Linked DNA regions of Homo sapiens. The protein of the gene in region 2 interacts with the protein of the main gene of each other region in a pairwise test. Each region holds a gene or a part of one and is shown on either strand. Other genes may lie near its edges.

The links. The genes of interacting proteins can lie anywhere in the genome.
Region 1: the proteins of C1orf94 (region 2) and CRYBA4 interact in binary tests that used the Homo sapiens proteins (3 or more experiments, as listed by UniProt).

Annotation. Positions count from the first base shown.
Region 1 is NC_000022.11:26,628,010-26,631,267, reverse strand, and holds the end of CRYBA4 (beta-crystallin A4), read right to left. Parts: intron 2,981-3,258; coding exon 2,838-2,980; intron 929-2,837; coding exon 781-928; 3' UTR 599-780; downstream 1-598. UniProt on the Homo sapiens protein: Crystallins are the dominant structural components of the vertebrate eye lens.
Region 2 is NC_000001.11:34,204,374-34,208,027, reverse strand, and holds part of C1orf94 (uncharacterized protein C1orf94), read right to left. Parts: intron 1-3,654.

The sequences.
Region 1 (3,258 bases), on a different chromosome or scaffold from region 2:
ACTCCAGCCTGGGTGACGAGTGAAACCTTGACTCATTAAAAACAAAACAAACAAACAAACAAAAAATAAAATTAAAATACAAAAACCATGTGCTGGGCCATAAAATAAGTCTTAATTCATTGCAGAAGACTTAAATCTTAAGGAATATGTTCTCCGACCACATTGGTCTTTAAAAACACACCAATAACAATAAACACCTAGAAAATCCTAAAGTATTTGGAATTTAAATAACATCCCTTTAAATAGCCCATAGGTCAAAAGAAAAAAAAAAAACCACAAGTGAAACTAGAAAATATCAAACTGAATGACAATGAAAACACATCAAATTAATATTTGTGGGAAGCAGCTAAAGCCATACTTGGAGGGAAATTTATAGCTAAATGACCGTACTGGGTGGGGGAAAGAGAGGCCTAAAATTAATGACCCAGAAGTCTGCCTTAAAAAAAAGCTAGAAAAACTAAGAACAAAGTAGGCCTGAAGTAAATAGAAGAAAGGAAATACTGAAGTTAAGAGTAAAAATCAGTGGAATAATGATAGAGAAAACAAGGCTAAAAACCGGTTCTTTGAAAAGATTAATAAAATTGAAAAGCACAACTAATACCAGACTTTCTCTTTTTTATTCGTTTGAGTTTTTTGTGCTGACTGTGCACGGACCAGTTCACATGGGTGCTGGGTTCACACAGGTTACAGGGGGAGGCAGAAGGAGAGAACACACCACAGCCTCCAGAGCGCCTCCATTGCAGATAAGCACGCATGCGCTCCTCCGTGCCGCACCCCTGTTCACTGCTGGATCCTGCGGATGCTCTGCACCTGGAAGGTCGGGGCATGAGAGCCCCACTCCCGGAAATGTTTGTAGTCACCGGAATGGTGATCGCATTCCAGCACATACTGAAATCCTCGGTAGCCCGGAAACTGGGAGCAAACCCAGCTGGAAAAGAGAAAAGGCAGACAGTTACTCTACAGAGACACCAGCATGGTGATCAACACAGGGGCAAAGGGATCTATGCACACGCACACAATTCCAGCCATCCTGGCCTTTCTTCAGTGCTCACAATGTGCCATGCTCTCTCCCCTACCACAGGGCCTTTGATCATGCCATTCCCTTTGCCAGAAGCACCATCCCAGCCTTTCTTTTCCTAGACAAGTTGTATTTGTCCTTCATGGCTCATCTTAATTATGAGGGCAATCTGACTCGTTCCCCAAATCAGGCCACAGTCCCTTATTATACCTTTGTAGCACTCATGTAATTCGATAGTTTTCAAATTATTTGTAAAATATCAGCCTCCCCTGCCAGCAGGCAAGCTCCTGAGTGTAGGAACGTGTATGTTTTGTTCATCGTTATCACCACCTGCATAAATATATAAAAGTCTAGCAAGGAAGAAGGGGTTCCTAAATATTTGCTGAATAAGTGAACAAGTGAAGGAATGGGAAGTCTTGTTCTTTCCCCTTTCTCCCTCCTTCCTTATCCAGAGGCACTTCCAAGAAAAAAAGCTATCATTTCAATTCATTGATTTTTTTTTTTTTTTTTTTTTTGAGACAGAGTCTCACTCTGTTGCCCAGACTGGAGTGCCGTGGCATGACCTCGGCTCACTGCAACCTCTGCCTCCTGGGTTCAAGTAATTCTGCCTCATCCGAGTGGCTGGGACTAGAGGCATAGCCACGACACCCAGCTAATTTTTTGTATTTTTAGTAGAGACGGGCTTTCACCATGTTGGCCAGGCTGGTCTCGAACTCCTGACCTCAGGTGATCCGCCCACCTCAGCCTCCCAAAGGGCTGGGATTACAGGCGTGAGCCACCGTGTCTGGCCCAACTCATTGATTTCTACTCTGTTCAGGACAAGGATTGGTGTCTGGTTTTCCAAGCCTCCATTTCCCTTTCTGTAAAAGAGGAAGTGAACTCAAGAATCACAAGGGGTCCCTCTTACTCTAAAACAACATGATTCTTTGGTGGTTCCTGAGAAAACTAAAGCCAAAAAAAGAAAAAAAAAAAAGATGAAAAACCCTACCTCCCATCTTTGCCCCCTGCCTACCAGGAGCCAAGGGGCACCTCAGAAAGTGGTTCTGATGTCCTCCCTAAATAAGAATCTCACACCTTAGCCTTCACCTGCCACCTCCTGGGTGGAAAGGAAAGGGCCAGTCAGTGCTGAGTTTGAAGCTGGATTGTTACCTACCTGCTGATGGACTTTGAGCAGGTTGCTGGAGCCACACCTGTGTTTTATGGCTAGGGGCATTCATTCTCCCCTCTTCTAGCCAAAGAGCCTGTGGCCTCTCACTCTCAGCCAAGGTGAGAAAATGAGGCTGAATCTAGCAATGGACCACATGACCAAACCTAGCCAATCAGAACACCCCATTCCTATGGGCATGATGATTGGTTCAGAGTTGAGCACAGGACCCAGCTGGACCAATGAGCACCTTTCTTGGAACCTTTAATAGAATCACTGAGCCTGGACACTGTCTTTCCCTAGGGCTGGATGTAACGATGAAGCCGCCACCTTTGCCTTCACACAGGAAGAGCTTGTCTAAGAATATAGTCACACAGAGGCAGGCAGGGCAACAGGTTGGGGGTTGTGGGGGGAGAGAGATACCTGCTGTAGTACCTGGATCCAGCTATGCTTGAAGCTAATTACAGGGGCTGATAAATATCTTCTGGGCTCAAACCAGTTTGATCTGGGTTTCAGTCCCTCAAATTCTGCCTGATACCTCCCTGTGCCTCAGTGTTCTCCTCTGGAATGTGGGCATCAGAGCACAAAAGTCCCCAGCACACAGTTTTCACAGGAGGTACACCTACCCCTCCCAGTAGCCCCTCCCCTGCCAGGTAGAGCCTTGAATACACTTACGCCCCAGAGTGGACGTGGAAGGACCCTACTTCATTGCCTTCCCATCCCATGGCCTGGAGGGAAGGATAGTCATCGCTCAGCTCTCCTTTCTTGCCCAGGAAGTTCTCTTGCTCGAAGATTGTCAGCCTCGAGTCACGGTGGTTCTACAGGAACAGGGAACACAGTCAGACCAGCAGGCTCCCAGTTGGAAACCCAGGAGCCTCTCCTGGCCTCCACACTCCCTGCCCTTGTCTCCCAAATCAGCCTTCCTTGCAAACCTTTTGGAAGGGCAATAAGGCAACAGGTACCAGAAACCTTGCCATTTGCCCTTCCAGAAATTTCCACAAAGAAAATAATCATGGAATAAATAGGCTGCAAGAATGTTCATCATAACAGTTTTTTCAAAAACAAACAAACAAAAAAAGGAGTCAACTTTTATGTC
Region 2 (3,654 bases):
CTGAGGCCAGCTGGAACCAGGCCAGGAGAAGCAGGACTCACATCACACAGGAAGCCCCTCTTAGGCAGCCTTCACAGCCTTTCTGATGAGTGTGGGAGACAGGAGCTTCAGGAGCCTGACTGCCTCCCGAGTCCCAGATCTGTGTTTTAGTGGCTGTGTGACCTTGGGCAAATCACATCTCTGAGCCTCTTTTTCCTTCTCTAAAAAATTGCATGTGCTCAGGCCTGCAAAGCCTATGAAGGTAGCCACATTATCTTTGTTGCTGTCCACACAACTTTTCTAAATGCCTTCCCCTAATCCCATACCTGCCCCCTGAAGACACAAGGTGTCTATGCACGTCTCTACGTGTGTGTGTTGGTTTGCATCCATGTTAAATACACCTGCATGTGTGTTTACATTTGTGTCTATGCAGCTGTGTATTTCTGTGTACAAATATACAACTGTGAACCCAGGTGTGTTAGTGTTGCTGTGTATCTATGTGCCCATCCATATACCTGTGTCTGTAGCTTACGGAGAGGGGCACTGTGAGGGTGAAAGTGTTAATACATCTAAAGAGCTTAGAACAGTGCCCTGCACATAGTAAGGACTCAATGTTCAGTGTGTTTGTCATCCATCACTGCCTCCTCCCTTAAACAGCTTTCTGGCAGTTCAGCCAGATGGGAAATTGACATTTTACTCACAATTCTGTCTTGAGGTGCTCATGTGTCCACACACAGACGTAAGACACACACACACACACACACACACACACACACACACACACACCCCGCAGAACTGCTGCTGTGGCAGTGGTCAGTTCTAGTCTCAGACTCTGCCTCCACCTGTCAATCCCGAGTTTTCCCTTAAGATGAGGCTCAAAACCCAAAGTACCCCTCAGCCCAGGACATCTTCTCAGAAGATCTGCTGCCCGAGAGGCTGCCTCCATTCTCAGCTCAGCTTGTGCCAATGACCAAAGTGTTGATGATGGCTGACCCTACACCCTTGAGGGTTCCCTCATGGCCTGTGGACTTTCTGATATGGAGTCTGCAAGTAGGTCTCCCTGCTCTCCTCCTGCTCCATCTTCCAGGTCCCCAAGAGTGTACCTCTTCTCAGAGCCCCTCCTTGCTCTCTGCTCCCATGCAGGGGACACTCCTGACATTCCCATGCTCAGGCCCCTCCCACTTTTGTCCACTCCTTCACCTGAAACCACTCACCTGCTCCCCTTTACTCCAAGCTCTACAGCCCAGGGCAGCCTCTCTCTCCTGTTATGACCACTGCCCGGTCCCTGCAACCCCAGCCTCTGCCTGAACCTGGACAGAGCAGTGAGACTGATGGTGTTGCCTTACCTGTTCTCAGCCCTCCATGAGCTCCAAGGCCACTAGGCATGTTGCTAAGTGTCCCTCCTCTGTTTCGCCGCCTCCTCTGATCCCTGTTAGCACTCATCTCTGCTTTCTACAGGCAGTCGTGCGCCTGCCTGTTTCTGTTTCTATGTGTGTGCATCAAACATGCATGGATATCGTTTGTGTGCAATTGTGTGTGTGCACGGCATCATACACAAAGATCTCTGCTGGGAGCATTCCATGTCACCATTTTTGAGACTCATCGTACCCTCTTAGAGGGTGACCAGAGCTATGCCTCCAGACCGCAGAGCCTAAGTTGCAGCAGCTGAGCTTCCCTATGGGAATCTTTCATCTTCCCTCTGCCTCTTTTTCATCATCTTCTCCCTCAGGTACAGCACTGAGCAGTCTCCAGAATGCCCAGCATGGGCCATGCCATCCACCCCTCACAGGAGCCCATACAGTAGGGACAGCAGAGGGCTTAAGCTGGTGGCCCTGGTCCTCCTGGGAGCACCAGGGAGGAAGGTGCCCCTTGCTTTCTACAGCCAACTTCCCCAGCCTCCACCATCCCACACCTGCTTGTGCCAGGCTGCCCTAGGCTCTGTGGATGGCAAACAGCTGCCCACCGCTGCTCAGTCCCAGGGCGGATTCTCAGGAGATGGTGCCACACTCATGAGTTAGAAAACACTGCATGACTTCAACAACATTTCTAGTTGTTAGAATTGCAAGTTTGTAACATCACAGGCAAGGGTAAATAAACATTCACTGTTCTTTGCTTAAGCCATGGTCCCTTCCCACGCACCCTCCCTCCTTCATTGGGAGCAGAGTTCCTTTATGCCAAGTAGCCCAGGAGCCTCTGAAGCTCCTCGGTGTTGGGGACTTTGTCTTTCACATCTCTGAGTCCTCCTACCACAGAGCTCTGAGTAAATTGGATTTGGGACCTTATCTTTATTCCCAGTGCTAAACAGGGAAAAGACCAGGCTAGACTGTTCCCCATTTCTCCTCTCTGTCCCCTCAAGGTCTGTGGAGCTCTCTGACCCCATTTCCTTGGAAGATTGAGGCTGAATAATAATAAAAACCAACATCTGTGTCACAGCTTAAATTTTACAGAGTCTTTACCCTTCCATGGACTCAATTAATCCTTACAACCATATCAGTAGCTACTGCTGCTGCTGCTGCAATTATTATGAACCCATTTCACAAATGAGGAACCATGGCTCTGAGCAGCTAACCAGCCTAAGGCCTAACTTGGAAGCAGCAGAACCTTTAAAGTCAAGTCTACTGGTTTCAAAACCTGCCTGCTATTATCTCAGGCCCCTTGATCAGCTATGTTGAAGCTGGACAGCATTGTGAGATCACAGAAGCTGGGAGAAGGTAAATTATGCTGTCCTTCCTTATTACCTGGGAGGACCAATGCCTTCCACAGCCAACTTCAGCTGGGCCCATTCAGTGCTTAAACTGTCTCAAAGAACCCAGCAGGCCTTACCAGCCAGGGTCCTTCTGCTGCTTCTGCTCAGAAGCCCAGGAACCTCATAGTCAGCCCTATGATGCTAAAGACAGAGGACCGTCATGCTCAGAAAATGATATGTCCAAATCTCACCCACTCCAAAAAGTCAGAAGAAATTAACATAGCAAAGAGATGCTATCCCCACTTAATAAAGCAAACCATTGCAAATTAGTTTTACACGGTGAGCTCTGTGAGGGCATTTTAGAGTGAATCGACTTGTACTAAATGAATTATGCAGTTGTTTCCCCTTTAGAGGTGGAGATGCATAGAGCTGATCTCTGGTTTATTCCTGAACTTGCATTAGACTCCAAGCTTTTCTTAGTCATCATTTTTTTTTTTTAGAGACAGGGTTTCACTATATTGTTCAGGCTAGTCTTGAACACCTGAGCTCAAGCAATTCTCCTATCTCAGCCTCTGGTGTAGGCTGGGACTCCAGGCACATGCCACCACACCTGACTTTAGTCATCTTTGAATCCCTCCACCTAGAACAATGCTCAGCCTCTAGTAGGCTTGTAGGGAGAAATGGTTTTCAAAATTACTTAAATTAATGAGTAAATAAATACATAGAAATGAGTAAATCGTGAGTAGGTGAGTAAATGAATAGTGAATAGGCACACAAAAATGAAAGGGTAGAATCATATTGGTAAAGGAGTCAGCGAATCAATGAACAGGACATTTCAAGACCTGTGTAAGGACAATAGACTACTGATATGAACAGGTCCATGACAATAGACTACTAATATGAAACTGGTCCACTTCAGCTTCCTTCTTAGGTCACCTTTCATCACAACCTCTCACCTCCACAATGGGGTGTGAGCTTTCCCTCCCTCG